Homo sapiens: one gene and its partners. The gene in region 1 interacts genetically with each later gene. Each region holds a gene or a part of one and is shown on either strand. Other genes may lie near its edges.

The links.
Region 2: changes in FUT8 (region 1) and TRAPPC13 together harm fitness more than expected from each alone (negative genetic interaction), as found in Homo sapiens cells (one large-scale study listed by BioGRID).
Region 3: changes in FUT8 (region 1) and MAN2A1 together harm fitness more than expected from each alone (negative genetic interaction), as found in Homo sapiens cells (one large-scale study listed by BioGRID).
Region 4: changes in FUT8 (region 1) and SEC24B together harm fitness more than expected from each alone (negative genetic interaction), as found in Homo sapiens cells (one large-scale study listed by BioGRID).
Region 5: changes in FUT8 (region 1) and SEC24A together harm fitness more than expected from each alone (negative genetic interaction), as found in Homo sapiens cells (one large-scale study listed by BioGRID).
Region 6: changes in FUT8 (region 1) and ARL5A together harm fitness more than expected from each alone (negative genetic interaction), as found in Homo sapiens cells (one large-scale study listed by BioGRID).

What each region holds. Positions count from the first base shown.
Region 1 is NC_000014.9:65,736,881-65,742,384, reverse strand, and holds part of FUT8 (alpha-(1,6)-fucosyltransferase), read right to left. Parts: intron 293-5,504; coding exon 1-292. UniProt on the Homo sapiens protein: Catalyzes the addition of fucose in alpha 1-6 linkage to the first GlcNAc residue, next to the peptide chains in N-glycans.
Region 2 is NC_000005.10:65,655,425-65,660,982, forward strand, and holds part of TRAPPC13 (trafficking protein particle complex subunit 13), read left to right. Parts: intron 1-211; coding exon 212-229; intron 230-2,943; coding exon 2,944-3,077; intron 3,078-5,274; coding exon 5,275-5,473; intron 5,474-5,558.
Region 3 is NC_000005.10:109,817,963-109,823,520, reverse strand, and holds part of MAN2A1 (alpha-mannosidase 2), read right to left. Parts: intron 3,853-5,558; coding exon 3,634-3,852; intron 3,302-3,633; coding exon 3,179-3,301; intron 1-3,178. UniProt on the Homo sapiens protein: Catalyzes the first committed step in the biosynthesis of complex N-glycans. It controls conversion of high mannose to complex N-glycans; the final hydrolytic step in the N-glycan maturation pathway.
Region 4 is NC_000004.12:109,456,379-109,461,936, reverse strand, and holds part of SEC24B (protein transport protein Sec24B), read right to left. Parts: intron 1-5,558. UniProt on the Homo sapiens protein: Component of the coat protein complex II (COPII) which promotes the formation of transport vesicles from the endoplasmic reticulum (ER).
Region 5 is NC_000005.10:134,650,408-134,655,965, reverse strand, and holds part of SEC24A (protein transport protein Sec24A), read right to left. Parts: intron 1-5,558. UniProt on the Homo sapiens protein: Component of the coat protein complex II (COPII) which promotes the formation of transport vesicles from the endoplasmic reticulum (ER).
Region 6 is NC_000002.12:151,800,242-151,805,361, forward strand, and holds part of ARL5A (ADP-ribosylation factor-like protein 5A), read right to left. Parts: intron 3,084-5,120; coding exon 3,035-3,083; 3' UTR 1-3,034. UniProt on the Homo sapiens protein: Lacks ADP-ribosylation enhancing activity.

The DNA of each region.
Region 1 (5,504 bases):
GGTACTTGACCGTTTCTATCTTCTCTCGAACTTTGTAGGAGGGATATAGGCCCGTCCTTCCCAATTTCCTGTTGACACCTTTAGAATAGCCATCCCAATGATTTCCAGCCACACCAATGATATCTCCAGGTTCCATGGGAATTTCATCTGCAGTTCGGGGTTGGTGAGCATAAATGGCAATTTGATTGTGGGCATTCTGGCCCCCAAAATAGTAGATGTCATCTAAAGAATGGAAGTTTGCAGAGGCATCAGGATGTAGTGTTTGCATAATTTCATAAGCAACTCGACAGACCTTGGGAAAGAATTTAAAAGAAATTGTTAGTATATAAACACTCTCCTTCACAGCAATCTAAAAGCCCTTGGCCAAAAGGATGGGCTCTAGGAGTAAGAGGTTGAAAAGTAGTGGATTCTAGTCACAAGCTTTCAGTCCATTTGTTCTCAGAAGATGGTACAAGTCATTCTTCATCTCTGTGTCTGGATCCTTTTTCAAATAAAGAAGAAAAACTCACGAAAGATTATTACAATTAAAATCTCTCTATCTCTATATAGTACAAAAGAATTTAAGAATATGAATTAGTTAATTTTAACAAACATTTATTAAGAGCTACATACACAGTGGTCCAAGCTAGGCACTCATGATACCAAAATGAGTAAGACATAGTTTGTGCCCTTAAAGAATTTGAAGTTTAGGATTAGGATAAAAAAACTTAACACAAATAAATGCTGATGGTCCCTTTCCTTCATACACTGTTAATCAATCACACATTCTCATCTGCTAATTTATAACTTGGTGTCAGAACTGTTTTCTTTTTTTTTAAATTATACTTTAAGTTTTAGGGTACACGTGCACAACGTGCAGGTTAGTTACATATGTATACATGTGCCATGTTGGTGTGCTGCACCCAGTAACTCGTCATTTAACATTAGGTATATCTCCAAATGCTATCCCTCCCCGCTCCCAGAACTGTTTTCAAGAGAGATTCATGTAATTACTGACAATCAACAAGCACTGGCAAGTGAGCTAAAACACATCGGCAATTTCTGTTCTAAAAAGTTTTAAGTGTGCTGTGTAGAGAGTGGCATGCTTGGATGACATAAACTGGGCAAGCCTTTGAGGAAATGCATCACCCTGATTACTATAGTTTTAAGGCTACTTAAAAGGTCCCTATGTCCAAAGAATACCCTCTCTGCTCACTGGATAGCAGGTGAAATTCCACAATCTGAGCTTCAATCCTTGAGGTTAATGCTTAGTAATAAAGTTAAACTAAACTATCACCCAATTTAAGCAATTTATACATTGTGAAAAGAGAACAATGCAACTCAGATGAAATTTTCCTAAATCTCCAGTTATGGTAATCTTAGTTAATGCTTTATTGTCACTATACCAATAGTTTTGCATGTATTTAAAATGACGCTACTCATAGTAATTGCTTATCTGCTCAGTGGAGCAATTTAGGACTACCCGGCAGTCTTTTAAAACCTTGGCATTTATGAAGATTAAAAACTTGAATGGTGATATGGTTTAGATTTGTGTTACCTGCCCAAATCTCATGGTGAACTGTAATCCCCAATGTTGGAGATGGGGCCTGGTGGGAGGTGATTGGATCATGGGGGCGGTTTCTCATGGTTAAAACCATCACCCCTTGATGCTGTGGTCACAGTAGTGAGTTCTCGTGAGATCTGATTGTTTAAAAATATGTGGCACCTCCCAATTCTCTTCCTCCTGCTCCAGTCATGTGAAGTGCTGGCTCCCCGTTTGCCTTCTGCCATGATTGTAAGTTGCCTGAGACCTCCCCAGCATCATGCTTCCTGTATAGCCTGCAGAACCATGAGCCAGTTAAACCTCTTTTCTTTATAAATTGCCCAGTCTCAGGTATTTCTTTTTAGCAATGCGAAAACAGACTAATACAAATGGAGATGCCTATTCTTAACTCTTATCAAATAAAATCTGACTAGGTTAATCATCACCTCAACTTAGAGAATCTGAATTTCAGAAAACTTGAGGGGCAATTCTCAAATGCTATATATAATTTGCAAATGAAACTACATTTGCCCCAATATTTTTAATTTTGCAGATAGGCAACTAAAACACAAGGAGATTAAGTGATTTATGCAAATTTTAGTGATAGAATTTCAACTAGATATAGAACCAAAATAATAGAAACCTTGCTTTCAGATTTATTAGTTCAACAACGATTATATTGGCAATGTCATTTTACAATTGAGATCATTGGTAGAATACCGAGACTATAATAAAATAGGGATCAAAAAGATTTGGAACTTTTGAATTTCAAATTCAGCCAAAGGCTCATAGAAGGCAAGCAAAATTAAGTGGGACTCAGGAAAAGAAGAAACTAAATAATTAAAGCAGCTCCAATAATAGCAAACTACAATAACAATGACAGAGGCTAATATTTACTGAGCTTTTGCTAACTGTCAGACATTGTTTTTAGACATTATCTAATGTAATTAGATTCCTTTCAGCATCCCCATAAAATTCTATCATTATGTTTGTTTTACAAATGTCAAAGGGAAGTTAAGGCATTGCTCAAGGTTATACTAATAAGTGGTAAATTCAGGTTGGAACCCAGGCAGTCTGCATATGCTTGAAACTGCTATATATATTTTCTCTTGTAAATCTTATTCTCCATGTTCATATTGTAACACCAGAAAGATATAGCATAAGACCAAAGACAGTCTTGGGTAAACCTGACAGTCTTCTTTTCAGGGTGTCTTCACCCACTCTTCAGTCATCCCTAGCCAGGAATGCAGGACCTTGTGTTACTCTTAGGATGACCACAATCTCTACTGTGACAATGAACCGTGATGTGTTTCCTCCTCTCCACTCTTAAACGTCTTACTCTCATAAAAACAACATCGCACCCTGTCCCACACCCTTAGAGACCTGTTTCTTCTGGGGATAATCCTAATAATTAGTGTATGTTTTGCTATCAAGAGTTGTTCATGTGTTAACCTTGGTGGATAACAGAACTGTTTTCTTAAACCAAAGAAATAACTATTATAATAATAGTAGAGATTTCAGACACTGAGGTGGCCCATTATAAAAATGACAAATGTGACTGTAGGCCTCTGCAAGCATACCAGTGCTACACAGGTGTGGCCCTTTATTTTTCTCATAAGAATGACCATTAAAGATAGCAGCTGAACTTAATGAGCACCGATTATGTCCCAGGCAGTGTTATAATAGTGTGCTCTTCCCTCACCTTGTCTCAACTCATTTAACTATTATGACAAACCTGTGAGGTACTATTATTATTCATATTTTACAGATGAAGAAGCTAAGCCACAGAAAGATTAAGTAAATTTCAAAAAATAAAAATAAAAATCCAAAAAGGAACTAGTTAATGGCAGAGCCACAGTCAGAACTCTTTCAGGCTCTTGAGTATATATTCCCTTAGGATAAACACCTAGAACAATGCCTGCCACAAAGTACGTGCTCAATAAGTATCTGTTGAATGAATATTGCTCCAGGCATAATACCAGCCCAGTAATGGAGACACAAGTCCATGGGTGATATTTAACCCTTAAGATCCATATATAACATTAAGAGGAAGTAATTTTAAAACTGTCTATATCAACCATGGGACAATTTACTGCAAAAGGCTAAAAAGATTACTATAGTGTTAATGTTCGCATTTAGTCACTCTATGCTTCCTCTCTTCTTTCCTTACCTACCACGTGGTTTAAAAGTTCAAATCACATGGCAGGTAAATGAAGGCTTGCAGCTGACGTCCATACTCAGGTTTGATGCTTGACAGGTGGCATGACTGAGAGCAGTCCATGGTTTGCAAAGCAGTGGTTGGCTACATGTAGTATGTTTAACTTTATTCTGTGTTGACATGGCACTGTATCATTTTTAGTACATCGTAAAGCACACAGTAATGGGTAACAGCAAAAATCCTGCCAAAGGATAAAACAGATATGACTGTATTAAAAAAAATTTTAAAAAGGGGGAGGAATCCATTAGTCTGAATTTCATCCCTTAGAAGTAGCCTGAGTTTACATAAGCCTCCAAAGCTTTCTCAGAGTAGATGGGATCTTATTTTTGTCAAAATAGATAGATAGGGGCAGGAGGATATCCTAGTGTGAGAAGTTGGAAGTGGCTGAGAGATCTGTGCACTTTTCCTGTAATCTGCTTTGTTTTACTATACAATAAGAGAATAAGACCCAGGTCTTTTCTTTGTTGTGAGAAACACCAGAAGGATTAATGCAGTAACAGCTGCACTGTACAGCACTCAGCATTGTAAGCTAGATAGAGCCTCTGTGGATGCAAATACTTTTCTTGTCTTCTGCTCTGGGAAGTAATCACAGAGTTCACACCTTGGGATTTCACCCTGTGCTTTCCTCCATGGTACTCTCAACAGGTATCCACTGTTGTTTCATGAGCCACATCTCAATGGAAATTCCTGTCCAGAGCCATCTGTCTGGAATAGTTAACGTAGTTTTTGGTTTTGCCCTCTGGGCTTCCAAAATCTGATTCAAAGTGTAATAAGGGGAGTAGAATTGCGTGCGGATTTGGAATTAGACCAAGAGAGGCTCATGAGAGTATTGTAATAACTGCCATAAAGGGAGGTGTCATAGGGGGAAAAAAAGGATTTTGTATTATGATAACTTTTAATGGCTGAAACTACAGAGTAACATTAACTGCTCTTTAAACAATGTCTTTAACAATGTTAGTCTTTAAAGTGAGCATCTGCAACCATTTTTTAAGTCAGATTTCAGAAAAATAAAAATTGATCCCAGAACCTGATAAGCAATATTTTCAGAAAACCTTTCTGATACTGTGCCTATCTACAACTGGGCTGTCAACTGCTGTTATTCTCCAACTATAAATTCTTTGCTTTAGATTTAAGATTCAAATAAGAAAATAGGTGACAAAGGAGATGCTTTGCACATAGGCGATTTCCAGTAACACAGAATAGGATTAATGTATTTGGTAGAACGTTTTAGAATGTAGTTGCATAGCTTTCAAAATTCACTTGACGTACTTGAAAAAAATGCTAATATTGCCTCCAATTTTCATATTAAATCCTGAGGACTGTGCTATTCAATTTATGAGGCTTTTAGGACAAACTTGGCTTTGAGAAACAGATCTGATGAAAGTTAACAGCAATAATAGTAACAAAATTAGAGAGCAGAGCCACAGTGTTGGCTTTTAAAACCTTTTCATTGAAGAAGAGAGAATTCCCAGACCTCACTTATGGATATAAAACCAAGAAAGATGAGAAGTCCTGAGACTGAGGGAGATAGGTCTAAAAATTTATGAGAAATCCCGATTAAGGTCCCATGACATTTTTGCCTGCAGTTTTCCAAACATCTAGCCTTGTATTTTTCCTTCTAGCATGGCATTTCATTCCTGCAGTATTGTCTACAATAGCTCATGGTCAACAGGTCAACTCTTTCTCACTATTGTTATATGGTATAAAATTCCTGAAAGGATAGTGTATAGGAGACAGAAAGTTTACATGAATAAAACTTAAAGA
Region 2 (5,558 bases), on another chromosome or scaffold:
CATTGTCATTTAACCTTAGCAGTTTCACCTTTTTAGAAAAATGGTTTGTCATATTTCTTTATGTTGCTTCCTGTTTACTTTCTTATTTACTAATGCTGTCTTGTTTAGTAATTTAAAAAAATGCAGAAATGCATTTTATTTTAAAGTAATTCTTTTTTCTTTAACATTTAACTCTGATTTTTCTAATTATTCTTTTTTATTTTTCCATTAGAGTGACCTCAGTTCTGTGGTAATTTGATTTTTTATTATAAATTTTTATACTTTTCTTACTCACCACTTTTTGACTCTGCCTAATTAATCTCTCTTTACAAAACATAGTGGAAAAACAGTTAGTTGTGAATACCACCTATGTGACTTCAGAAAGATTATATATAATTTTATGTACTTTTTAATTATATCAATTTTCTATTCCGTGGGGCAAAATTAGCTCAAAAGTTAAATTGTCATACTGAAACAATTCTCATTTTCAGTGTTTCTTCTTTAGATTTTTTTTTTAAAGAGGTATGTTACCTTGTGTCAAATGGCCTTGTGATTTTCATCATCTTACTGTAAAATACCCGATTATCCTAGCCTTCAGTTCTTTGAGTAGACTGTATAATCGAAATTCATTTTCAGATGCACAGTGGTTTTAGTTTTAAGTCTGGGTCAGGTGATGATGGCCGCTTGACAAAATGAAACAGAAGAAAAGCAAATTTTCCCAACTTGGCTAAAATTTTGTTTTCAAAGTTATATTTACAATAAGCAGCATTTGCTTATATCACATTACATATGTAATAACATCAACTGCCTTAGCACTGAATTCTTAATTTTTAAAATATCAAATTGCTTTACACTAACTGTTCAAACTAACTTGATTTTCCATTATGCTGCTTGTTTTTCTTTCGTTTTATCTAAGCTCTTCCTAAATTTATGCAGAAAATTGCAGTTTTTAAATTGAAATGTGGGTCTGTGGTTATTTTTTTAAAAGCAATGGATTGATGGGATATATGTACTTTTTTTTAGAACCAGTAACCAAAAAATGCCATTAAATGATGCATTTTTTTAAACTGATAAATCATTTTATTTCTATTTTCATTTGAACACATGTCCCAAAAACTAAAGAATCTGTTTTATTTTAGATAATAGTACATTATATTATAACTTAATCATTATATTTTTGCAAATGATTTTCATTTTCTTGGTGTTAGTGTTTAAAAAGCTCAGCCAGGCGCGGTGGCTCATGCCTGTAATCTCAGCACTTTGGGAGGCCGAGGCGAGCGGATCACGAGGTCAGGAGTTTGAGACCAGCCTGGCCAACATGGTGAAACCTCATCTCTATAAAAAATACAAAAATTAGCCAGGCATGGTGGCACTTGCCCGTAATCCCAGTTACTTGAGAGGCTGAGGCAGGAGAATCACTTGAACTCAGGAGGCAGAGGTTGCAGTGAGCTGAGATCGCACCACTGCACTCCTGCCTGGGTGACAGAGTGAAACTTCGTCTCAAAATAAATAAAAATACAAAAATTTAGCTGGGCATGGTGGCACTGCCTGTAGTCCCAGCTACTAGGGAGGCTGAGGCAGGAGAATCGCTTGAACCTGGGAGGTGGAGGTTGCAGTGAGAGGAGATCTTGCCACTGCATTCTACTCTGGGCAACAGAGCAAGACTCCATCTTGTGGGGGTTGGGGGAAGCTCATAGGCCAGGCACAGTGGCTCACACCTCTAATCCCAGCACTTTGGGAGGCCGAGGTGGGTGGATCACTTGAGGTCAGGAGTTCTAGACCAGCCTGGCCAACATGGTGAAACCCTGTCTCTACTAAAAATACAAAAATTAGCTCAGTATGATATTGCGCGCCTATAATCCCAGCTACTCGGGAGGCTGAGGCAGGAGAATCCCTTGAACCCGGGAGGCGGAGGTTGCAGTGTACCAAGATCACCCCACCACACTCCAGCCTGGGTGACAGAATGAGACTGTCTCAAAAAAATAAAAAGCTCTTAAGTGGCAAATTTTTCTGGTCATAGTTGATTTTATGTTATTTATGTGTAGTAAACATATTACTATGAAACTTTTGAAAAAAATTATTGAATACCCTTAGTGTATCATTTTTCATGTAGGTTTGTTTCAAAGATAAATCAAGTTAGTCTGTTATCCTTCAATTACATGAAGGAAAATAATAACCAAATAGCATAAAATAATGTTTAGCATAATTAGGGGAATTAATTTATCTAAATTTATCTAATTATCTAATTTATCTAATTATTAAAATTACCTACTGGCAAATATTGCTAAATAGCATCAGCTTTAAAATCTGTCACTGAGGCTACAAAATACCTTTTGCCTGATTTAAAAGCTCTACGATGGTGAAGTATAATCCACATATTCTTTTTTTAGCCCTCAATATACATTTAAAATGAACTAAGAAATCACTAATGACCACTCGCAAATTGCTTTAATTTAAAAAGTTAAATCCTTCAAGATTACAAAATAGATTATTCATAGTATTAGTGGTCACTACACTATCTAAATTGGCATTAATATGACAATCAAAGTTATACTGCCATATTATAATGAAGACTTAATTATCTTAACGTAATACTGAAATTATAGGAGCATAGGTATATTCATCATACTAAAGCACATTTTAATATTTTAATACCTAATGAAAAGAAAGAGTATTTGTAAATGAAATTCCAGTTAAGTATTTTGGGATGTTAAGACAAAATATAGTTATCCTCCATCCATTGTTTGACAAGGTATCAGTTGACTAACACTTGACTTTGCCCCTGTTAATTATGATAGGGTGAAGATTTCTTTTCTTGCATTAATTGTGGTAACTTTGATTTGCAGGCATGAACTAATCACATTTGTGGTTAATATTTTTTCTTCATATAGATAAGATATTTTTGTTGAGATAAATATTTTAAATGCCACCACACCTTGGTGGATATTTTTTTCATATCCTCAGACTGATGAAGTATTTCTGGAAGCCCAGATTCAGAATATGACAACCTCACCTATGTTTATGGAGAAGGTTTCACTGGAGCCATCTATTATGTACAATGTAACAGAATTAAATTCAGTCAGCCAAGCTGGAGAATGGTAAATATTAATTTATGAAGTCTTTATCCTTGTTTTGAAAGATACATGTTTTTCTAAACATCCATTGCTCTTCAGTGGGTTTTTTTTTAATAGACTTTTTTTAAAGAATTTGAGGTTCATAGAAAAATTCATCAGAAAGTAGAGTTTCCACATACCCTCTTCCACTCCTCACAGTTTCTCTTGTTATTTACGTCTTGTTTTTTATTTTATTTTTATTTTTATTTATTTATTTATTTATTTATTTTTTGAAAGAGTCCAGCTCTATGCAGTGGCATGATCTTGATCTAGGCTCACTGTAACCTCCACCTCCCAGGTTCAAGCAATTTTGGTGCATCAGCCTCCCAAGCTGCTGGGATTACAGGTGCATGCCACCACGCTTGGTTAATTTTTTTATTTTTAGTAGAGATGGGGTTTCACCATATTGGCCAGGCTGGTCTTCAGCTCCTGACCTCAAGCGATCTGCCCACCTTATCCTCCCAAAGTGCTGTCCTTACAGGCGTGAGCCACTGTGCCTGGCCTACATCTTGTTTTAATGTGGTACATTTACTACAATTGATGAAATGATATTGACACTGATTACTAACTAATGTCTATAATTTACATTAGAATTCACACTTTTTGTTGTATGTTTTATTGTTTTTGGTTTTTGGTTTGTTTTGTTTTAAGAGACAGGTCTCATTAATGTTGCCCAGGCTGAAGTCAAATTTCTGGACTCAAACGATCTCCCAAGTATCTGGGACTATAGTCAAGCACTGTAGGTTTTGACAAATATATAACATGTATCCACCATTACTATATTATGCAAAATAGTTTCACTTTCCAAAAACTCTCCTGTGCTCCATCTTCATCCCTCCATTACATAAAAATAAAGATCCTAGCCCTTTTAATTTCATGTTTTACTATTCAAAGCATTTGGTCTTTTAAGTCTCATAAAAATCCAGTGAGGTAAATATGAATCCTATCATTGCTATCCTGCAAATAATAAAATGGAGGAATGTGAAGGAATGGTAGAGAAGTTAAAAAGAGTAAGGGTGAATGTGGGTTTAAAAAAAGAAATACTCTCTCAACATCAAAAGAAAAGGACATAGGAATAGATGGTTTAATACTTTGTGAAAAGGAAATACATACACCTTTCCACAGCTAATTTAAAAGAGGAAGAATAAATGTAAAGTTGACAATAATACAGATAAGAAAGTAATAGGCTGGGTGTGGTGGCTCATGCCTGTAATCCTAACCCTTTGGAAGGCTGAGGCCAGAGGATTGCTTGAAGCTATGAGTTCTAGACCAACCTGGGCAACTTGGCATTTTTTTTATTTAGCTGGGCATGGTGGTACACTCCTGCATTCCTAGCTCCTTGGGAGAGAGGCAGGAAAATCGCTTGAGTCCACAAGTTCAAGGCTGCAGTGAGCCATGATTGCACCACTGTACTCCAGCCTGGTGACAGAGAGAGACCTTGTATTTTAAACAAAAAAAAAAAAAAAAAAAAAAAGAAGAAGAAGAAGAAGAAGGTAATAGCTTGGGATAGCATCTGAATTTCTTAATTAGGAATGAAAAGTTTGCTTTTATATTCTTAGGTTGGTTACACACAGAAAAGTTCATAGCCTCTTTCATCCTCACTGAGGAAAACAATTTTCCATTCTTTTCTAGATGTTTTAGTTCATTTTGAAAATTAGTTTAGAATGGTATGTCTCTTATTATTCTAAACTCTTATCTTTGATAATTTTAGAGAAAAGAGACAGGATACTTAAGGTTCTGGTTTCTGTTGCACTTTTCAGTTAATTGATACATGTTCAATTTTATAAGTAATATATTACATTCTATTATAAAGAACCTCCTTGAACCCAGAAGTTAGAAGTTACAGTGAGCTATGATCATACCACTGTACTCCAGCCTGGGTGACAGAGCAAGACCCTGTCTCTTAAAATTATTTAAAAAAAAAAAAAGGGACCCCTGCCTTTCGGGGTCCAATTACTATAAAGAACCTCAAGATTTTCGATATCAACTGAAAAAAATGAAGGAAAAATAAATCATTGCAGTATACGTTCTTTTTATTTGTATTGAAATCGTTAACATGTTCTGTTGTTGATCTTTGGAGGGTACATCATCCAGTTCCTATCCAAAGGAACAATCACAGCCATGGTTTTTCTTTTAAAAGATGCTAGAGAATTTTCTCCGTCTCTGTCTCCACCCCTCTCAGTGTGTCTACGTTTGGGTCAAGAGCATATTTGCAACCAATGGATACACGCCAGTACTTATACTGCCTAAAGCCAAAGAATGAATTTGCAGAAAAAGCAGGCATCATTAAGGGAGTAACAGTAATTGGAAAATTGGATATAGTATGGAAAACAAATCTAGGTGAAAGGGGAAGGTTACAGACCAGCCAACTTCAAAGAATGGTGAGTCTGGAAAAAACTTCGCTGGGGTTTTGGTGTGTGAAAGACAGGTAGTTAGAACAACTTAATTTTTTCTACATCCAGCAGT
Region 3 (5,558 bases), on another chromosome or scaffold:
GAAATAAAAATGTTTACAACTTCACTGGTCTAGAAAGCATTCCTCCCAGCTATACAAATTTCTAACTAAAATCCTTCTATTTGTCCATATAGTTACTTATTAGAAACAGCAATCATTCTACAGAAGTTACATTTTCCCAGGTAAATAATTATTATAACCATGGTCCCAGCCCCCTAATGTTCAGGGTTTGGGACAGGTGGCAAGGATGACTACAGGGAGTCATCTAAGCAAACTGAAAGCAGGATTCAGAAACATAGTTTAATCATAGCTCGGTTTACTAAACTATAAAACATTCTGTCCTTTTACTTGAAAGAACTAGCTGAATATAAATTCACAAACTTGAAAAAACTACTTGGAAACCACTAGTTTAGTTTTTATTTAAATTTTAAAAAATGGTAATAAAGCACATAACTTATGTGACATGGAAGCAAATTTAAAACATTTATGAGTAATTATATTTTTAAAGTATTAGATACCTTAGCTCAACAATAGCATAGAAAGTTAGGCTTGCAATATGAACTACTTAAACAGTGTAAGATTTTCGGCCAGGCGCCGTGGCTCACGCCTTGTAACCCTAGCACTTTGGGAGGCCGAGGTGGGCGGATCACAAGGTCAGGAGATCGAGACCATCCTGGCTAACATGGTGAAACCCCGTCTCTACTAAAAAGACAAAAAATTAGCCAGACTTGGTGGCGGGTGCCTGTAGTCCCAGCTACTCGGGAGGCTGAGGCAGGAAAATGGCGTGAACCCAGGAGGCGGAGCTTGCAGTGAGCTGAGATCGCGCCACTGCATTCCAGCCTGGGTGAAAGTGCAAGACTCCGTCTCCAAAAAAAAAAAATTTTTTTTTCAGAATTGTGTAATTTTCTTCCAAATTTACCTCTTTGGCTAGGGAAAATTTTCTGGAGTTATTAAAATGCTTAATGGTTTACAAATTTCTTGTACCTAATTACCAAATAGCTAGAAAGTGAGGGAGGGGATGAGAACCTGGGATGATGAGTTCTGGGCTCTTGCCTTTTTCTGATGCACTAGACTGCCTCTTTCCCTGATGTTTTTTATTTTCTCTCTGTAAAAATGACAATTGTTTTATCTTTCTATCTGACATTAGAGCTATTTAAAGATAAAATGGTTTTAAATAAATTAGTTATTGGTATCTACGCATGAAATTCTATAGCACAACTACTTTTTTAAGTATAAATACAGTCAATCAAAATAAAATGTCCAATGACAAAAGCTGGTGAATGAGAAAACACTGAAACAGCTCATATTTGGGACTCACTGCCCATCCTGGAATGCCTCATATGAGTTGTAGTTTGTCTTTAATTCTTCACTGACTTAAAAAAAAAAAAAAAGAAAAACCCCAAACAGCCAAAAAAAAAACCAAAAACAAAAACAAACAAAAAACCTAGAGTCCTTACTGTAGCCTACACAATCCCTTAAAATCCAGTATTGGATTTTAGTTAGCAGGTTTCATAACTTGTGGAACAAAAGTAACTTTTTCAGGAGATAGGTCCCTAGCTAACAAGACAATAATTAGGATAACATTTCACTGATCTTGAGGTATAGAAAACCTATAAAGGTATAAAAGCAAAGGAAGAAACTCTACAGAAAAAAAAGAAATGACTACACAAAAATTTAAAACCACTATAAATGAGAAATACAATAAAATAATTAACAAACTAAATGACACAATAAGAAAAATTTTACAACATATAGGGAAAAGGATTAATTTTACCACATATAGAGTGCTCAGAGATCATCAGGACACACCAACAGAAAAACAGTCAAAGAATAGAAATAGGAAAATCACAAAAGAAATATGAAAGATAAATGAAGGTACAAAAACGTTCAACCTTACTAGTAACCACAAAAATCTTAACAGAAAAATATTTTTCTACTAACTTACTATTATAGGCAAAGCTTGTAATATGGCCAATTCTCAGTGCTTGGAGTGGGATTTTAGAGTTAATCTCAAAAAATGCTGGTGGGATTGAACATTTACCTAGTCTTTCTAGAGGGAAGATAAGCAGTACACAGCAAAAGTCCTTAAAAGACTTCAGACACTGATACAAAATGACTCTTCTAGAAAGTTATTCTCAGCAATTAATCAGAATTGCATTGTAGCATTCTTTTTGAATGCTACAAAGAAAGCTTATTACAATGTTATGGTAGTGAAGAATCGGGAGAAAAAGAATATAAGCAACATCTTAAACACAACAGTATATATTAAAATTGGATTTTTAAAAAACATACCATCAGATTGTGAGCACTGTCACAAATGAAAAACAAAATATGTACATGCAATAAGTCAAGACTTGAGAACGGGGAGAAAAGGATATGCATAAAATAAAAGACAATAAGAAATACATCCAAATGTTGGCAATGGTTTTCATGGGATTGTGCACCTGTTGGTAAATTTTAATGTTTTCTTTAGTTTCTGGCATTTTCAAAATGTGCCAGAGTTTGCGTATTACTACCTTTATAGTCAAGAGTGAGAAAGATTTGTTTTTTAAAGGGCTGAAAGTTAAGGAGAAAAATGGTCCAGTGGAAAATCTATTTTTCCCATACGGCTAGAGGTTTTGTGTCTGTATAAAATGCATACATATAAAGCTCCCTAACTCTACGTAAAATCTAGTTTCTTCCCATGTTCATTGTTTATCCTAACTGAACATTGTTCATTGTAGCATCTTAACAAATTCCAACTCTAAAAAACTATTTATCTAACGGGGTCTTGCTCCGTCAACCCAGGCTGGAGTGCAGTGGCGTGATCTTGGCTCACTGCAACTGCCTTCCGGGCTCAAGCCATCCTCCCACCTCAGCCTTCCTGAGTAACTGGGACTGTAGGTGCAGGCCACCATGCCTAATTTTTGTATTTTTTGTAGAAAAGGGGTTTTGCCATGTTGCCCAGGCTGGTCTTGAACTCCTGAGCTCAAGCAATCTACCCTCCTTGGCCTCCCAAAATGCTGGGATTACAGGTGTGAGCCACTGCGCCCAACCATTTATCTAACTTTCGACTACAAATTGCTAAGTATCAATAAGGTGATAGATAATACTGCAACCAAAAGTTCATCTATCCCTAATAAATCAACAGATGATAAAATAATGACACTCACTTATCTTTTTCCTCAATACTCTTTCAATAAGTGTTTATTCCATTTGTCATCTCATCAGTACCACTTACCTTGGCATTACCATCAGGTAAGAAGAGGTAGGCACCACTTTTGTCTCTTTTAATTGTGGTTCCATACCATGAAAATTGCACATTTACTTCATGGTGTTTACCATCTTCTTTAGTCATCATTTGCTAAAGATTAAAAAAAATAATAATAAGCAACTCACCACTAAGATGTTAAGCATGTTGCATCTGGTTCTATGTATATGACAATTTAAAAAAATAATTTCTGTACTTATCTGGTGGACCAGTGACACACAGACCACGGAGTAGCGCCACCCACAGACTATACATGTGAGCAGCAAGTGGTCAATGAAGGTGCAAAAAGCTCATGCTTCCTTTTACTCAAGAGTATTTGATACAGCTCTACTTAAGACTTTTTTCCCCTTTTGCCTAATTAATCTACACACATTGTAGCAAAAATGATAAGCATTCTATGAATTTTAGAACTATTCAGAACATACCTTCATAAGTCCAGTTTGATCAAACCGAAGTAAAACAAAGGAGTTCTCTAGTGTTATACCTTCTTCAGTATTTATCATATTCTTTATGGTGAAAATTCCGCTATCTTCTACTTTATTCTTATACAAGACATAATCAGCTAAATGTGAATTTGAACTTGCTGATTCCAAAATCTTATACACTTTCAGTCCCAATGGCGGTATATGTGCTCGAAAAGAGATCTTTAAAAGATAGGGAAGGGAATTTATTAAAGATAAATGTTATCTACTGAGAGGCAAACCATTTATATTTTTGGTAAAACCAACAAACTATCATATTTTTTAAAAAGAGAATCCAGTTGGCCCTCCATATCCACAGGTTCCATGTCCACAGTTTCAACCAATTACAGATAAAAAATGTTTGAAAAAAAAACAAAAAACAAAAAATACAAATAAAAACTATAGTATAATAACTATTTACATAGCATTTACATTGTATCAGATGTTACAAGTAATTTAGAGATGATTTAAAATACACAAGAGGATGTGTGCAGGTTATATGCAAATGCAGATGCTCCTCAACTCATGATTGGGTTATGTCCAATTAGAATTTGAAAATATCGTAAGTCAAAAAGGTGTTTAATACACCTAACCTATCCAAAATCATAGCTTAGCCTAGTCTACCTTTCATGTACTCAGAACACTTAAATTAGCCCACAGTTGGGCAGAATCACCTAACACAAATCATATTTTATACTAAATATAAATAGCTTATGTAATTTATTATATACTATACTGAAAGCGAAAAATAGAATAGTTGTATGGGTACTTGAAGTACGGTTGCTACTGAATGCACATTACTTTCACGCTATTATAAAATTGAAAAATCTAGGTTGAGCCATTGTAAGTCAGGGATCATCTGTACTATGCCATTTTATATAAAGGACTTGAGCATCCATAGATTTTGTTATCCCCAGAGGGTCCTGGGACCAGTCCTCTACAGATACCAAGGCATGGCTGTGTAACAATATTCTATAAATGTTTGATATCTTATGGGTAAACCATACATGTCTCAGTTTATCCAGAGAACCTAATAACCTAAAGTTGGTAGGCCTATCAAAAGCACTAATGTTTTTATCCAATATGTGAACCTGTATGATCATTCTCAATTGTTTGGCTGTACTCTAGAATGCCTAGAGAAGGAAATTTTCCATGAATGTAAGGGCTTTACAACAATGCCATTTCCTAATTATTAATTTTTTTTGCAATATTATGATATTTCGGTTAATAAAAATGATAAACATAATATAAATATTAAACAAGTTAGCATTAGCCATCAAATGCTTGAGGTTCAGCAGACACTGAACAGAGCATGGGGGATGCACACAGTTTAAGACATGACCCCTGCTTTCCAGGAGCTGTTGCTGTTCCATTTTCTAGATGGAAAGCTTCCTGTAAAATCTGACCAAAATTTTTATTATAGTTTACCTTTCTATCTAAAAGATGATGCATATTTAAGAGTAGCTAGAAGGTGGATCACGGGGTCAGGAGTTTGAGACCAGCCCAACCAACATGGTGAAACCCCCTCTCTACTAAAAATACAAAATTAGCCAGGCGTGGTGGCACATGCCTGTAATCCCAGTTACAGGAGGCTGAGGCAGGAGAATCACTTGAACCCGGGAGACAGAGGTTGCGGTGCGCCGAGATCGCGCCATTGCACTCCAGCCTGGGCAACAAGAGCGAAATTCTGTCTCAAAAATAATAATAATAATAATAAAAGTAGCTAGCAATAGCTTCTGTCAAGCAGAAACAATTCTTAGAGTTCCTAGTTTATGGCTGTATCTCCAGAAATGCCGTTTAAATGACATTCCAGATTTTAAAAGTCTAACCTTTCTAGTGGTACAGTGATCAGTTTAATATTGCTTATTTTAAGAAACTTTGGCACAAAA
Region 4 (5,558 bases), on another chromosome or scaffold:
AGGGTCTCACTGTGTGCCCAGGCTGGTCTTAAACTCCTAGAGTCAAGTGACTCTCCTCCCTCAACCTCCCAAAATGCTGGGATTATAGGCATGAGCCACTGCACACAGCTAAAACTTTTTTCTCAGTTTTTATTTTTCCTAACTAGAAAAGTAACAATATACCCACTGTAGAAAAAATTCAAACAATAAAGAGTATGAATTAAAAATCTCTGCCTAGTAGCTTATATCCTATTTCCCAGATATAGTTACAGTTAATGCTTATGCATCCTCTGTATATCCATGTATCTATGTAATGCATATGTAAGCATGTATATAATTTACTTGATTTTTTAAACACACAAAAAGGATATTACAGTTCCGCAACTTGCTTTTACTTAATATATGCTGAATATCCTTAAGTATTAGCATATATAAATCCTCATTATTCTTTTAAAAATTTACATATAGTACTTTATTGTAGAGATATAACATTATTCACCAAATCTCCATTGATGAATATCTTGGGGTTGAACTAATCTATATTTATGAGGTCAACTTTTATGATGAAGCTATAAGACAAATTTCTAGAAGTCAAACTGGAAGTTCAAAAGGTTTATGTTTTTAAAATTGACATTATTGGCAAATATCTCTTAAAAGGTCTATCAATTTATACCTCCCATCAATAATGCTTCATATTGCCTCATTGTCCCAATACTGACTATATATTAATCTCTGCCAATCTGAAAAGTGAGAAACACTTTAGTTTACAGTAGTTAACTTTGAATGATGCTGAGACTCTCATTTGGGTGTCTTTCTCTGCTGTTTGCTTTTTCTGTAGCATTGCGATTTCCTTAATGATTTCTAGCTGTTCTCACACAGTAGAAAATTAGCCTAATGTTATGTGCTGTAAGTATTTCCCCCAGGTTACTGTTATGTTTTCACTTTGTTCATGGTATCTTTTGCTATAGTTTCTTGATTATGTAGTAAAATTCTTTTTTTATGCTTGACAGATTTTTAAATCATACTTAGTAGAGGTTTCTTCATTTCAAGATTATAAAACTATAAAACCATGTTTTACTCTAGTGTTTTATACTTTCATCTTTATATATCTTTGATAAGTATAGCATATATTTATTTTATTAATACCAACAAAACATTAATCCTAATATTAGTCTTATTAATATTAATATATTAATATATTACATTATATGCCATTCACTGTTCTAAATGCTTTACATATATTAACTTCTTTAATCCTCTAAAGTAAATAGTATTATTATACCCATTTATCAATAAGTGAGCCACAAAAGTCAAGATGTTTAACACAGTTACATGCTTAGGAACTAAATGGGCCGGAATTTGAATCAGGCAATCTGGCTCAAGTTTATGCTCTTAACCAATGATCTGCTGTCCTTTGCTACAAATGGCCAATTGTCCCAAAAACAGAATTCTAGTTTTAGTTCCAATTACTTTTCTTTGGGTTTTGGGCAAATCTTAATTATCTTGGAATCTAATTTTTCTGTCTTGTGGAAGGAAACAGGTATCTGTGCCATATCTCAAATCAAAGGATAATTTAATAGAAAATTGACAAGATGTTTTAGCTCCACTGACACAAGTACACAAAGGAAGTACCACTACACTCCTTGCCATAATAATGTATTAAAATACTTGTTTATAAAAGAGATAAGAATAAAGCATACATTTTCTAATTGTTTTCAATTTGTACTAAGTAATGTAATGGAATCTTCATTTCTGGTCATGTAATATATATTCTACGGCCAGCATAAAAATAACTTACACAGTCAAGCTGTAAGGGAAAAATATCATCTACATTCCTCCTATAATTCCAAGAAGTATACAGAAAACCAAAATACTGATAACGCTATTTTACTAGGTGTATAATTTACTTTTCTTAGATTATTTTAGATGGTAATAATTCATCTGAAAGAATTTATTTACTTAAGGAAATAAAGTCTGTTAGGATCTTTCATTAACACGACAAAAGTAAAATGTTGTCCTCCTTTCTCCTATTTAAATATATTAAAAGATGGATCTGCTACCTTTCACTGTAGTGTCAGAAAACTCTACACTAGTAGAATTTATCAATGAAGAGCCAAGTCAGATTTAGAGAAATCTGTTCAAATATCTACCCACTTAGTGACTGATCTGGCATATCCATGCTACATGATCTGAAACGAGAAATAATCATTATGTCCCAACTATTCAAATGTCATTCTTTTAAAAATAACAGGAATGTCCTAGCTGCTGAAATTTATCAGAAGTGAGTTGCCCACCAGAATAAGTCTATTTACTTTCTAGCCTATCAAAGAAAGGTACTTACTCCAGGAAAACATGGGGGGTGGGAATATCTAATATATCTAATCATATGTGGATGCTTACTATTTCATACTTTATATCAAGACCTAAATGTTCCCAATGTATAAAAAAGTATCTGAAAGTAATTAAAGTTAATAAAGACAAATGTAAATCATTTTTAACATGTATTCAGTATTTTTAAATTACTGAGATATTTTGCTTTTTTGTACTATTTCTTCAAAAATCATTATGTATTTTACACTTATAGCACTTCTCAATCTGATCAACCATATGTCAAGTACTCAACAGCCATGTACAGCTAGTGGCCACCACACTGGATGGTGAAAGTCTACAGCATATGTCTATGATTCCAGTTGTTTCTGCCTCTCATGACAGATTAAATTTTCTGCCCTCAGTGTTTTCCCCCTATTCTTTTCTCGTGTACCTGCTTCAGTTTTCTTCCACATTTATTTAAGCTCTATGGCCTCCAAATATTGTATTCCAAGAAAGAACTATTTTTTCGAAGAGTAGAGCAACACAGTGCATTATGTACACATATACATATATTATGTTTAACTTATCTGAATAAAAAACTCTTGTAGTAATTATTCATCTGTGATCTTTCTTGGGATTCAAAATGATTCTGCAGCATGTATGAAAAGACTGCTGGTATTTTAATACTTCTAAAATAGACATAAAAGTTGTGGAGGAAAAAAATTTGTTACATATATAGTAAAATTTCTGAAAAATAACTTCAGAAGTACTTTTCTTATCACAAATGTGATACAGTCATTGTAAAAAAAAAAAATACAGAAAGTGATCAAATAAAAATCATCTTAATCTTCCCGAGATAACCTGCTAACATTCTGATGTATATCCACCCAGTATTTTCTTTTTGCATATATATGTATAATTTAGTTAAGCAAAAGTGGGATTATAATGTATCTTTTAAATGATTCCTTCATTTAGCATGATTTGAATATCTTTCCATCATTATTTTTAATGTCTGAATAGTATTCCATTACATGAATTTACCATATTTTAATCAATTTTCTATCTGCCATTTAGGTTTTCATTTTTTTAACATAAACCACCTAATAAATAGATCTGTAGGTAATTTTTGTGTTCATTCACTTTACTAAAAATAACTTCCTACCAGTTGCAATTGTTGGGTCAAGTCTCTAGTTGGCAGCTTAACTGTGCAGAAGTGGGAGATGTCAGGATGCCCAGCAATAAGGGAGGTAGAGATCAGAATCAAAGTGGGCCCAGAAGCCAAATTTGGCAGAGACTGCAAAGTCTTTATAAATCTATTCCAAAAATGAAAAGAAAATATATTCCAAAAATTGGGGGAAAATGTTACCAGTAAATGAACAGACAAGGGATATCGAGAGAAATGAAAACTATTTAAAAAATATTCAAAATAAAACAAATAAATATGCTAAATGGTCTCTACAGTATGGCAGAAGACTTAATGAACCTTGATTAAGTTGACCAACCTTGAAGATTGGTTAAGAAAATGATCTAAGAAACATAGAGAAAAAAAAAAGGCTGAAGAAAAATGAACAAAATTCGAGAGACCTGTGGGACAACACATAGCAGTCTAACACTTGTAATAATCAGTAAAGCATGTAGTGGGCTAAAGAGTGGCCCGCTAAAAGATTATGTACACATCCTAATCCCCCCAATCCTGTGAAAATTACATGGAAAAGTGTGATTATTGCCTTAAATGACAAAAGACATGCTTAGGTTAAAGATCTGGGGAAGAGGAGCCTCTCTTGGATTATTTGAGTGGGTTCTAAATGCAATCACATGTATCTTTATAAAATATACATACAGAAGAAAAGACATACACATAAACAGAGAGAAGGCAATGTGAAGTTGGAGCACAGAGTGATGTAGCCACAAGCCAAGGAATGCCAACAGTGAGACAAGTAGGAAGAGTCAATGAACATATTACTCCCCTATGAGCCTACAGAAGGAGCATGACTGCTATGGTTTAAATGTTTGCTCCTCCAAAACTCATCTTGAAATTTCATTGCCATTGTAACGGTATTAAGAGGCTGTGCCCTTATGAATGCATTAATGCCACTATCACAGAAGTGAGATTGATATAAAAGGGCAAGTTTGGTCCCCTTTTCTCTGCCCTCACCTTTGCCCTTCTGCCACGTGATGTTTTCTGCCATGTTATGACACAGCAAGAAGGCCCTAGCCAGGTGCTGGCACCTGATCTTGGATTTCCCAGCCTCCAGAATTGTGAGAAGTAAATTTCTGTTCATTATAAACTAGACAGTCTCAGGCATTCTGTCATAGTAGCACAAAATGGACTAAGAAGTAGACCTGCCAACACCTTAATTTCAGACTTCTAGACTTCATAACTGCAGAAAAATACATTTATGTTGTTTTAAGCTACCTACTTTGTGGCCATTTGTTTCAGCAGTCCTAAGACATTAATAAAGATATAGAACAGAAATTCTCAAAGTGTAGTATACAAAACTCCAGCAGTGCCAGAAACTCTTTGGGGAAAATCCATGAGTAAAAACTATTTTCATAACAGTACTAAGATGATATTTGCCTTTTTCACTGTGTTGACAATTATACTAATGATACAAAAGCAATGATGGCTGCAATGTGAACCCTGGGGCACAAACTGAAGCAATGGCACCAAGCAATACTAGCAGTTACTATATTCTTCACCACCATGCACTCACACATAATTTTATTAGATTAAAAATGATGGTCTCTGTGAAACATAAAGCACTTTTATTGCACACTGAAGTATAAATGTTATCTTCAGGAAAAGTATTTGTTTAACTTAGCTGTGAGCTCTACCATTGAACAAAACTTCAGCAAATAGAAAACAACAATATATTGAAAGTAAAATACATTATGACCAAATGGGGTTCATATTAGGAATACAAGGCTGACTGACCATTTGAAATACATTCAATGTGATTCAACATATTAACAGACTTAAGAAAAAGCCACATAATCACATCAATAGATACAGAAAATGCATTAGATAAAACTTGGCATCCATTCATGATAAAAACTCTCAATAAACTAGGAAGAGAAAGAAACTTTCTTAACCTGATAAGGACTATCTACTAAAAACCTATAGCAAACCATACTTAATGGTAAGGGACAGACAGACTGCTTTCGTCCTAACATTGATTACATGGAAGGCAAGATGTCCTCTCTCATCATTCCTATTCAATAATGTACAAGATGTAACAGCCCCTTCAGTGAGGCAAGAAAAATAAATA
Region 5 (5,558 bases), on another chromosome or scaffold:
GTAAGAAAAATAGGTCACCTTGAAGAACACCAATATTTAAGGAGGAGAGAGAAAAAAACAATCAGAAATGGAAGAAATATTGAGAATACTGCTGTTGAGAAATAGCAACCAAAAAAAAGAAAGAAAACCATAACTACCCTTCTGGTGATATCCTAGAAACCAAAGAAAGCAATTGTTGTAAAAACAAAATAACAGCCAAAGGTATCAAATGCAGCTCGGAAAATGAGAACTGAAAAATATTTTTCTATTTAATAACCAGGAAGCCATTTGTGGCCTTATTTATTTATTTATTTATTTTGAGATGAATTCTTGCTCTGTCGCCCAGGCTGCAGTGCAATGTCATGATCTCGGCTCACTGCAACCTCCACCTCTCGGGTTCAAGTGATTCTCCTGCTGAGAATCACTCAGGAGGCTGAGGCCTCCTGAGTAGCTGGGATTACAGGCGCACGCCACCACACCCGGCTAATTTTTGTATTTTTAGTAGAGACAAGGTTTCACCATGTTGGCCAGGCTGGTCTTGAACTCCGGACCTTGTGATCCACCCGCCTTGACCTCCCAAAGTGCTGGGATTACAGGCATGAGCCACCACGCCCAGCCTTGTGGCCTTATTAAGGACAATTTTGGGATGTGTGGGTAAAGAAGCTAAATTAGAAAGTTAGAGGCAAGAATGAATGCAGATGAGTGCTTCCCACCCAACCAGCAGCTTCAGAATCAGAGGAACCTGCTATAATAATGGTACAAATTGAGATCCCAGGTCCCACCTTTGTAAAATCCTATTTCATAGGATTCAAAAGGATCCCAGAATCTGCATTAGTAAAAAATCTCATGTGGCCGGGTGCGGTGGCTCACACCTGTAATCTCAGCACTTTGGCTCAGGCGGGCAGATCACCTGAGGTCAGGATTTTGAGACCAGCCTGGCCAAAAAGCTGTACGTTTCTTTAGGAAAGCCTGGGCCAGGCGTAGTGGTTCACACCTGTAATCCCAGCACTTTGGGAGGCCAAGGTGGGAGGATCACGAGGTCAGGAGTTCGAGACCAGCCTGGCCAAATGGTGAAACCCATCTCTACTAAAGACACAAAAAAATTAGACAAGCATGGTGACGCACACCTGTAATCCCAGCTACTTCAGGGGCTGAAGCAGGAGGATTGCTTGAACCATGGAGGTTAAGGCTGCAGTGAGCCAAGACTGCACCACTGTACTCTAGCCTGGGGGACAAAGTGAGACCATTTCTGAAAAACCAAAACAAAACAAAACAAAACTGCAGTTTCTAACTGGCTTTGCAAGTTGATTCAGTCAATAAAGGCACTAATTAATGGTGGGAGTCATTATTTGCCTTTAGCGTTAATACATGATAATCAGATTAAGATCCATTAGTTTAAGGTCTTGTAGTCTGCTATCAATTTTTGCAAAGGAAATATGTATACACAAAGACTTAGAAAAACCTCTCAGCTGGGCGCAGTGGCTCACGCCTGTAATCCCAGCACTTTGGGAGGCCAAGGCAGGCAGATCACGAGGTCAGGAAATTGAGACCACCCTGTCCAACATGGTGAAACCCCGTCTCTACTAAATATACAAAAATTAGCTGAGCATGGTGGTGCACGCCTGTAGTCCCAGCTACTCGGGAGGCTGAGGCAGGAGAATCACTTGAACCCGGGAGGCAGAGGCTGCAGTGAGCCAAGATCTGCACCACTGCACTCCAGCCTGGGTGACAGCGTGAGACTCCGTCTCAAAAAATATATATATATATTTTTTTTTTTTGAAAAAGGCTACTGTTAGGTCTTTTGTTTTTTATTAATTTATTTATTTTTGTGACAGGTTCTCACTCTGTTGCCCAGGCTAGAGGGTAGTGGCATGATCATGGCTCATTGCAGCCTTAACCTCCTGGACACAGGTGATCCTCCTACCTCAGCCTCCTGAGTAGCTGGGACCACAGGCTGGCACCACTACACTGGACTAATTTTTCTTACTTTTTTATAGATATGGGGTCTTCCTATGTTGCCTACCCTGGTCTGAACTCCTAGGCTCAAGCAGCCCTCCTGCCTTGGCCTCCCAAAGTGCTGGGATTACAGGTGTGAGCCACTGCACCCGGCCTATTTATTTATTTTTGAGACAAGATACTGCCATGTCACCCAGGTTGTAGTGCAGTTGTGCAATTGTAGCTCACTGCAGTCTTGACCTCCTGGGGTCAAGTGATCTTCCTGTCTCAGCCTCCCCAGTAGCTGGGACTACTGGGCCCGCACCATGCCTATTTTTTAAAAATTCTTTGTAGAGACAGGTTCTCACTATGTTGCCGAGGGTGGTCTTGAATTCTTGGGCTAAAACAATCCTAGCACCTCGGCCTCCCAAAGTGCTGACATTACAGGTGTGAGCCACCACACCTGGTGAGGTCTTTTGACTATAATATATAAAATATCTGTGCTAGATGTTGTGGCTCATGCCTGTAATCCTAGCTCTTTGGGAGGCCAAGGCAGGAGGATTACTTGAGTCCAGGAGTTCAAGACCATCCTGGGCAACAGAGTGCAGCTCTGTTTTCTAAAAAAAACTGTTTAGTTAGCCAGGTTTCAGGGCATGTGCCTGTAGTCCTAGCTTCACAGGAGGCTGACGTGGGAGGATCACTTCAGCCAGGAGGTTCGAGGCTGCAGTGAGCCATGATCAAGTGACTACACTTCAACTTGGGTGACAGAGCAAGACCCAGGCTCTTTAAAAAACAAACAAACAAACGAAACTGGAACGGGTATGGTGGCTCACACCTGTAATGCCAGCACTTTGGGAGGCTGAGGCAGGAGGATCATGAGGTCAGCAGATAGAGGCCATCCTGGCCAACATGGTGAAACCCCGTCTCCACTAAAAATACAAAAATTAGGCCGAGCACAGTGGCTCATAACTGTAATCCCAGCACTTTGGGAGGCAGAGGCGGGCAGATCACGAGGTCAGGAGATTGAGACCATCCTAGCTAATATGGTGAAACGCTGTCTCTACTAAAAAAAAAAAAAAAATACAAAAAATTAGCCGGGTGTGGTGGCGGGCACCTATTGTCCCAGCTACTCGGGAGGCTGAGGCAAGAGAATGGCATGAACCCAGGAGGCGGAGCTTGCAGCGAGCCAAGATCGCACCACTGCACTCCAGCATGGGTGACAGAGTGAGACTCCGTCTCAAAAAAACAAAAACAAAAACAAAACAAAACAAACAAACAAAATACAAAATCAGCCAGGCATGGTGGCATGTGCTACAGGTGCCTGTAACCCCAGCTACTCGGGAAGCTGAGGCAGGAGAATCGCTTGAACCTGGGAGGTGGAGGTTGCAGTGAGCTGAGATCGCACCACTGCACTCCAGCCTGGCAACACAGCAAGACTCCGTCTCAAAAACAAAAAACACCAAACTGGCCAGGCACAGTGGCTCACGCCTGTAATCCCGGCACTTTAGTAGGCCGAGGTGGGCGGATCACCTGAGCTCGGGAGTTCGAGACCAGCCTGGGCAACGTGGCGAAACCCCGTCTCTACTAAATATACAAAAATTAGCTAGACATAGTGGCGCATGCCTGTAGTCCCAGTTGCTCAGGAGGCTGAGGCAGAATTGCTTGAACCCAGGAGATGGAGGTTGCAGTGAGCCAAGATCACGCCACTGCACTCCAGCCTGGGCAATAGAGAAAGACTATCTCAAAAACAAAAAACAAAAGCAAACTGAAGATCTAATTATACTGTAATATGTAATTTAAGCAAACTTCATTAAATACTTAAGACTTTTCGGCCAGGCGCGGTGGCTCACGCCTGTAATCCCAGCACTTTGGGAGGCCGACGCGGGCGGATCACCTGAGGTCAGGAGTTTGAGACCAGCCTGACCAATGTGATGAAACCCTGTCTCTACTAAAAATACAAAAATTAGCCGGGTGTGGTGGCATGCACCTGTAATCCCAGTTGCTCAGGAGGCTGAGGCAGGAGAATTGCTTGAATCTGGGAGGCAGAGGTTGCAATGAGCCATTGCACTCTAGCCTGGGCAACAAAAGTGAAACTCCATCAAAAAAAAAAAAAAAAAGAGTTTTCAACAGAATATGCAAGCATCAACTACTGCTTTGGAATAGTTAAGCAAAACTAGATCCCAGCATTGAAACGTTTTCTCACCTTCTTGAAAAATATCCTGTTCTCCAACTTGATACCATATCCCTACTCTCTGTATTATTAGCAGGATGAACAATAAAACAACCCAGGCTAGGCTTGGTAGCTCATGCCTCTAATCCCAGCACTTTGGAAGGCTGAGTCAGGAGGATCACTTGAGGTCAGGAATTTCAGACCAGCCTAGGCAACATAGAGAGACTCATCTCTACAAAATATATATAAAACATTATATATATAATATACATATATCTTTACATTAGGCCGGGCGTGGTGGCTCATGCCTGTAATCCCAGCACTTTGGGATGCCAGGGTGGGCGGATCATTATGAGGTTTGGAGTTCAAGACCAGCCTGGCCAACATGGTGAAACCCCATCTCTACTAAAAATACAAAAATTAGCCGGTTGTGGTGGCACAGGCCTGTAATCCCAGCTACTCGGGAGGCTGAGGCACGAGAATCACTTGAACCTGAGACATGGAGGTTGCAGTGAGCCGAGATCGAGCCATTGTACTCCAGCCTGGGCAACAGAGTGAAACTCTGACTCAAAAAATAATAATAAAATATATACATTATATATATATATTATATACTTATATAAAAAATGGGGCCTGGTGGTATGCACCTGTAGTTCTAGCTACTGGGGAGGCTGAGGTGTGAGGATTGCTTGAGCCCAGGAGTGACAGTGAGTTGTGATCCTGCCACTGCACTCCAGCTTGAGGGACAGTTTAAGTAAGATCCTGTCTCAAAAAAAAAAAAAAGGCAAAATACAAAAAACCTGTAGAGGCCAGGCACAGTGGCTCATGCCTGTAATCCCAGCACTTTGGGAGACCAAGGTGGGTGGATCACTAGAGGTCAGGAGTTTGACATCAGCCTGACCAGCATGGTGAAACCCCGTCTCTACTAAAAATATAAAAATTAGCTGGGTGTGGTGACACGTGCCTGTAATCCCAGCTACTTCAGAGGCTGAGGCAGGAGAATTGCTTGAACCTGGGAGGAGGAGGTTGCAGTGAGCCGAGATAGCGCCATTGCACTCCAGCCTGGGAGACAAAAGCAAAACTCCGTCTCAAAAAACAAACAAACAAACAAACAAACAAAAAACCCTGTAGAAATGGAACTTATAAAAAGACTATGAAAATTATATTTTAAAAAAGAGGTCTGGGTACCGTGGATCAGGCCTGTAATTACAGCACTTTGGAAGGTTAAGGAGGCAGGAGAATCGCTTGAACCCAGGAATCAGAGGTTGCAGTGAGCCAAGATCACCACCACTGCACTCCAGCCTGGGCAACAGAACAAGACTCCATCTCAAAAAAAAAAAAAAAGATGTGGAACAAATGTCTGTTGGACTGTATCAAATCAACATAGTGACAGTATCTCTAATACAGCATACCACAGTGGTCAAATCCCTTTAACATTTCAATATTATGACAACTACACTCATATATAAATGTT
Region 6 (5,120 bases), on another chromosome or scaffold:
GTGACAAGAAATGTAAAGTGCCTATACAAGAGGGAACAATAGAGTCCTATTTCTAGGCATCTTAATACTATATGCTGAGACAAAAAGGAAAACAATGTCAGGGACTTCATGCCTTTGCTCAAGCTCTGTGCATTTCTCTGGGTCTCAAATGACCTACTAGGCACTTTTTAAAGGCCAGAAAATAAAAACTCTTCTTCCCTCTATTTCATCCCATGCTTCTAAAGTCACTTTCACTGCCTATATTAAAAATGCCAGCCATCAGTGCTAAAGCACTTTTATATTCTTAAGGCAAAATGTCACATAAGAAAATGAATCCCCTATCCACTTCCCCACTATAACCCCTATACAACCTGCCTTCGTTGTATCCTTTGCCCATTATGAGGACCAAGAGGTACTGGGAAGATAAAGAGAACTGAAAATTTCAAACAAGAACCCTCTATATAATGTGTAAGATGTACTTTTACAGATGCTATTATGATAAAATTAAACATATTCAAATGCTTATAGCATATGGTTACTTTTGCCCAGATATCAAAAGAAGTTACATGACTTTCAAAATTAGTATCAAAAACAGGATATTTAAATCCAGCCACATGTACAGAACTATGAATCTTTGTTCTTCTCAGAGCTGAACACAATGACTCCACGAGATGTTTTCACTCAGAAGTGGCATATTAAAAACCCAAAAGCATCTCCCTCTGCTTAATTCCACTTAAACTACATAAAAATTGCCAATATGACTTTTCACCAGCTTCTCCATTTTATTTGAAAATAATACTTTTAAAATGATTTTGACATTTTCATATATAAATTTATTTTTTTCCCAACTATAATTTTGGTTTTATGTACAAGTACACAAGTACCACCTTATTTTTAATGTTTACCTTGAAGGGTAGAAAACAAAATCATGTTTTATAAATGTGGTATAAAATTACACATCTTCTCATGATGTCATGTCAATAATCCACTACACTAAACCAACTGTAACAAGGTAGTACATGCTTTAAACATCCAATTAAGAATAAATCTGAGCCAACACCTTGATGATGACAAGGGAATGTGCTGATATCGTGTTAAACTGATGTGGCAGTAATCCAAGGGACTAAGCACATGATTATTCAAATTAAAACATAAAAAGGACAAAAGGTGTGGATTTTCTGGGCTACATCACATAATATTTGTCTGGCGAAACCATAATACAGATTTGGGTAAAGGAGATTTTTAATAGATAACAAGTAATTCTTTATAGGGATTTGAGAAAGTACGAGAACATATGGGAAAAGCTTAGTAATTTAAGATTTACTTTTGTAAAACCATGTGGACAAATATTAAATGTTATGCTTGCATTTTGAACATTATAAATATAAAACATAAAACATCCAATGTTAAATACTGATATCCCATGCCTGACCTGGATTTAGATATTGAGTATTTCCCATTTTAAAGAAAGAAACTTTCAAAGTTTTGTCAATACTTAAACTATATACTATTATTCCTCACCAAAATCTTCATGAAATTTAAAAGGCTGATATTGAAGGTAGTTTTTTTTTCTCAAATATGCTAAAACATGTGAGTTTGGATTAACCTTCAGATTTTCAAGGCATGAAAGATACATAAATAGAGTACCCAAGAATATGTTTTAACACATTTAGGATAAGTTTGTTTACAGTTGTGACAGGAATACCTTTGACTTTCAGACACTGAAAAAATATACCCTAAGCAAACATAAAAGGTGTTTTGGGTCAAGTTACTTCTTAGTACAAATAATACGTTGTATCAATCAATTTTTAAGCCAAATTCTTAAAATCATTCAAAAAACACTTGCATTTTATAATTGTCAATGCATTTATGTAATAGAAGATACAACAAAATTTAGAAATAAAAAATCTCACACTATATTCCAAGTACCAAAATAAGAAGAAATTTGCAAATTAAGAAATTATCAATGTTGCTCAGAAACATGCCTTACTTTTACTCTGAAATTCACTTTAACTGCTTGACATATAATTTAATACTTAAAAATAATATAGCTAAGTTGTTTAATAGTATTTATAGAATGCTACTTTTCTGGGTAGACATGTTTCACAAAACAGTTTTCAATTAATGCTGAGCATTCATTTGATAATTGTAATCATAATTTGATTCACTGATTAATGGATTAATAATTTATTCAGTAATTTAGATGCCATAAGAACCACTGAAAGGAATAATCTGATAGTTGCTCATTGTACAATCCTGCCTATTAGTAATACTAAGCCAAGAATCTGCTAGCTTTCCCACTCTGTTGAATTACATGTTTCCATGTGTGTGATTTTGGTCAACAACAAAAAATCGATACACAATGTCATGCTTTTTCCTTTTCCTTTTTTTTTTTTTTAAACAAGCAGCTCAGCGATTTGGGAGGTTGGTTAGTACAATACAGAGAACACAGAGAGAAAGTATAAAATGGCACTGAACACTAATGCCAATACTTATCTCATTGTGGTTATAACGAAGGATATTATTATTTGTGTTATTTTTGTCTGGAACATAAATCAATGCCATTAACTTGAACTTGAGGTATATACACAATACACACACAACCTTAAGCAAAATACTTTTCATAAGTAACATTACATTTTAAAATATTGGAAACATTCGAATATCTGTGCTGATTTGTATTCTGACTTAATGGAACAAGAAGAAAATAACATTCAACTAGGGAGGGTTAAACTGATAATAAAGCTCTTAAAATTCAAAATGTCTTCCTCTCCCTTTGTACTTACCATAGGCTACACAATGTCCTGAGAGGATTCATTATGAGAAAAATGTCAATCACAGCTTCAATAACTTACTTTGGAAAAAACTAATGAGAAAGCAAACTGGAAGGTGAGACTTCATCTTTGTTTTCAAATAAGTGGTCTTAATTTTTCTTCTTATAGAAAAAGTTTAAATCAGTTTATTATAAATATATCTAAACCATTAATTTTTGCAGCTTTCAGGTAAAGTCCAGCACTTCATTTATACAAAATCTATGAGAAGAGGTCAGTAGAGATCATCTAATCTTAAGTCGTGACATCATCCATTCAAGTCCTTGGCACAATCTATAAAGAAAACAAAATCATTTGATTAAATTCTGAACTAAGAAGCTATGAGCAGCAAACTATGAACAGCAAACTAAAAGAGAGCATTTTTCATTTAGCTAAATAACAAAGATTTAAAAATCAATAATATTCAGTGCTTGGGCTGCTGCAGTGAAGCCATATTCTCATACACAATACATCTGTGCTTTTTTTGTCTTTCCTCTTTTTTAGACAGGGTCTCACTCTGTCACCCAGGCTGGAGTGCAATGGCACAATCAATGGCAGCCGTGACCTCCTGGGCTCAAGCGATCTCCCCACCTCAGCTTCCCCAGCAGCAGGGACTACAGGCGTGTGCCACCACACCCAGCTAATACATCTGTGCTCTTTTGGTTCAGTTATATCTCTAGCACCCAGAACGCTGTCTGACACTTTAAAAAAGCTTTATAATTATGCAATGAGTGCCCACAGAAAGCAACATATGTCAAAAATATATCTGGCAATACGTATCAAAAATATTTAAAATATCAATACTCTGCATCCTTTTTTCTACTTCTAGAAATGTATCCCAAAAAAGAAAATCAGACATAAACATAGACTTACATACAAAACTGTTCATTAAAGTACTTTTAATAGGAAAATAATTTTTGTCTAAAAATACAGAAAAAAATAAATTACAAGACATTTGTATGATGAAATATTTAAAATTTTCCTTTAAAAAATGATTTCATAATTCTCATCACCAGGAAATGGAGGAAATAAAACCATTTTATAATAGGATAAAATGCTCATGATATAAATGAAAAATGGCAGGATATTCAACAAAATATATATTGTAGTTATTAAAACAAAGTATACACATGTTACATAAATATTATAAAATGTAAGTATGTAAAACTTTTGAAGGCAATAAAATTTCTTATCAGTAACATCAGTTATCACTGAACAACTGGTAATTGAACATAACCCAAAATATAGAAAACGATGTTCACTGTGGGAAAAGAAACTAAAAGTTGAGCAAGAGAGAAATGGTTGTACACATTAAGTTGCAATAAAATGAAGAACTGTTATAAGTATTAACTATTATCTATGACAAGCTTTTGCAGACATAAAAAACTATGTTACAATATTAAATTTTTTTCAATTCAGAGTTTTGTTAAGTATGAGTCTAATAACGTAAAAGAAGACACAAATAGAAAAAAGATGGCAATGAGGTAAATAAATGGTTGTTTTGGGGTGGTTGTCCCATACTTTTCTCCTGTGACTAGATTCATTACTTTTAAACTACTGATAGGAAACAGTACACAAAAATAATAGATGAAGAGATTGTTTAACTCCAAACTGATAAATGAACAGTAGTTACCTAATAGCAAACTAGAAACTAACTTAATATCCATTCTCTTAATTAATCTTTACAACACTGAGATCAGAATCCTTCCAATGTTACAGAGGAAACCCAGGGTTGGCAATGTTAGCAAATGGGAAAAGTAGGAGTCAAATGAAGCCACACACTGAAGTTTGTGATCTCCAATCCACTGAATCAAAACGCTAATCAATACTAAAACCAATAATTTAGATCAAGGTAGCTGAACTATAAAAGAAAAACAGAACATTTCTCTCAAAACCAAACTCATCTATTATTTTCCTATTTTTAAAACAAAATTGCTTTACCTCTTTTTAAAATGAAATTGAGTTAATATCTATACTAATGATACATTTTCCATACAATTATCAAAGTATATAAATTAAATCTTATGTCAATCCTAGATGACGTGTCTTTATTGACAAATATTATAAATCCATGCTTTTGCTTGACAAAGATATATATATTAGACTATTTGACAAAGAAATACTTAACATATTTTTACTTAAATGAATACATGGATAATTGGTATTATCTGTGATTTTTTTAATGAACAGTTTTTTTTTAATTAAAAAACCTTTTTTAAGGTTCTAATTATGCTCTTCCAAATGTCAGTAACAGTGCCTTCTATTAAGATTTGCCTTCAATAATTCGTTATATTTGGTTCACCCTTCATCGTGGTCTTGAAAGGAAAACAA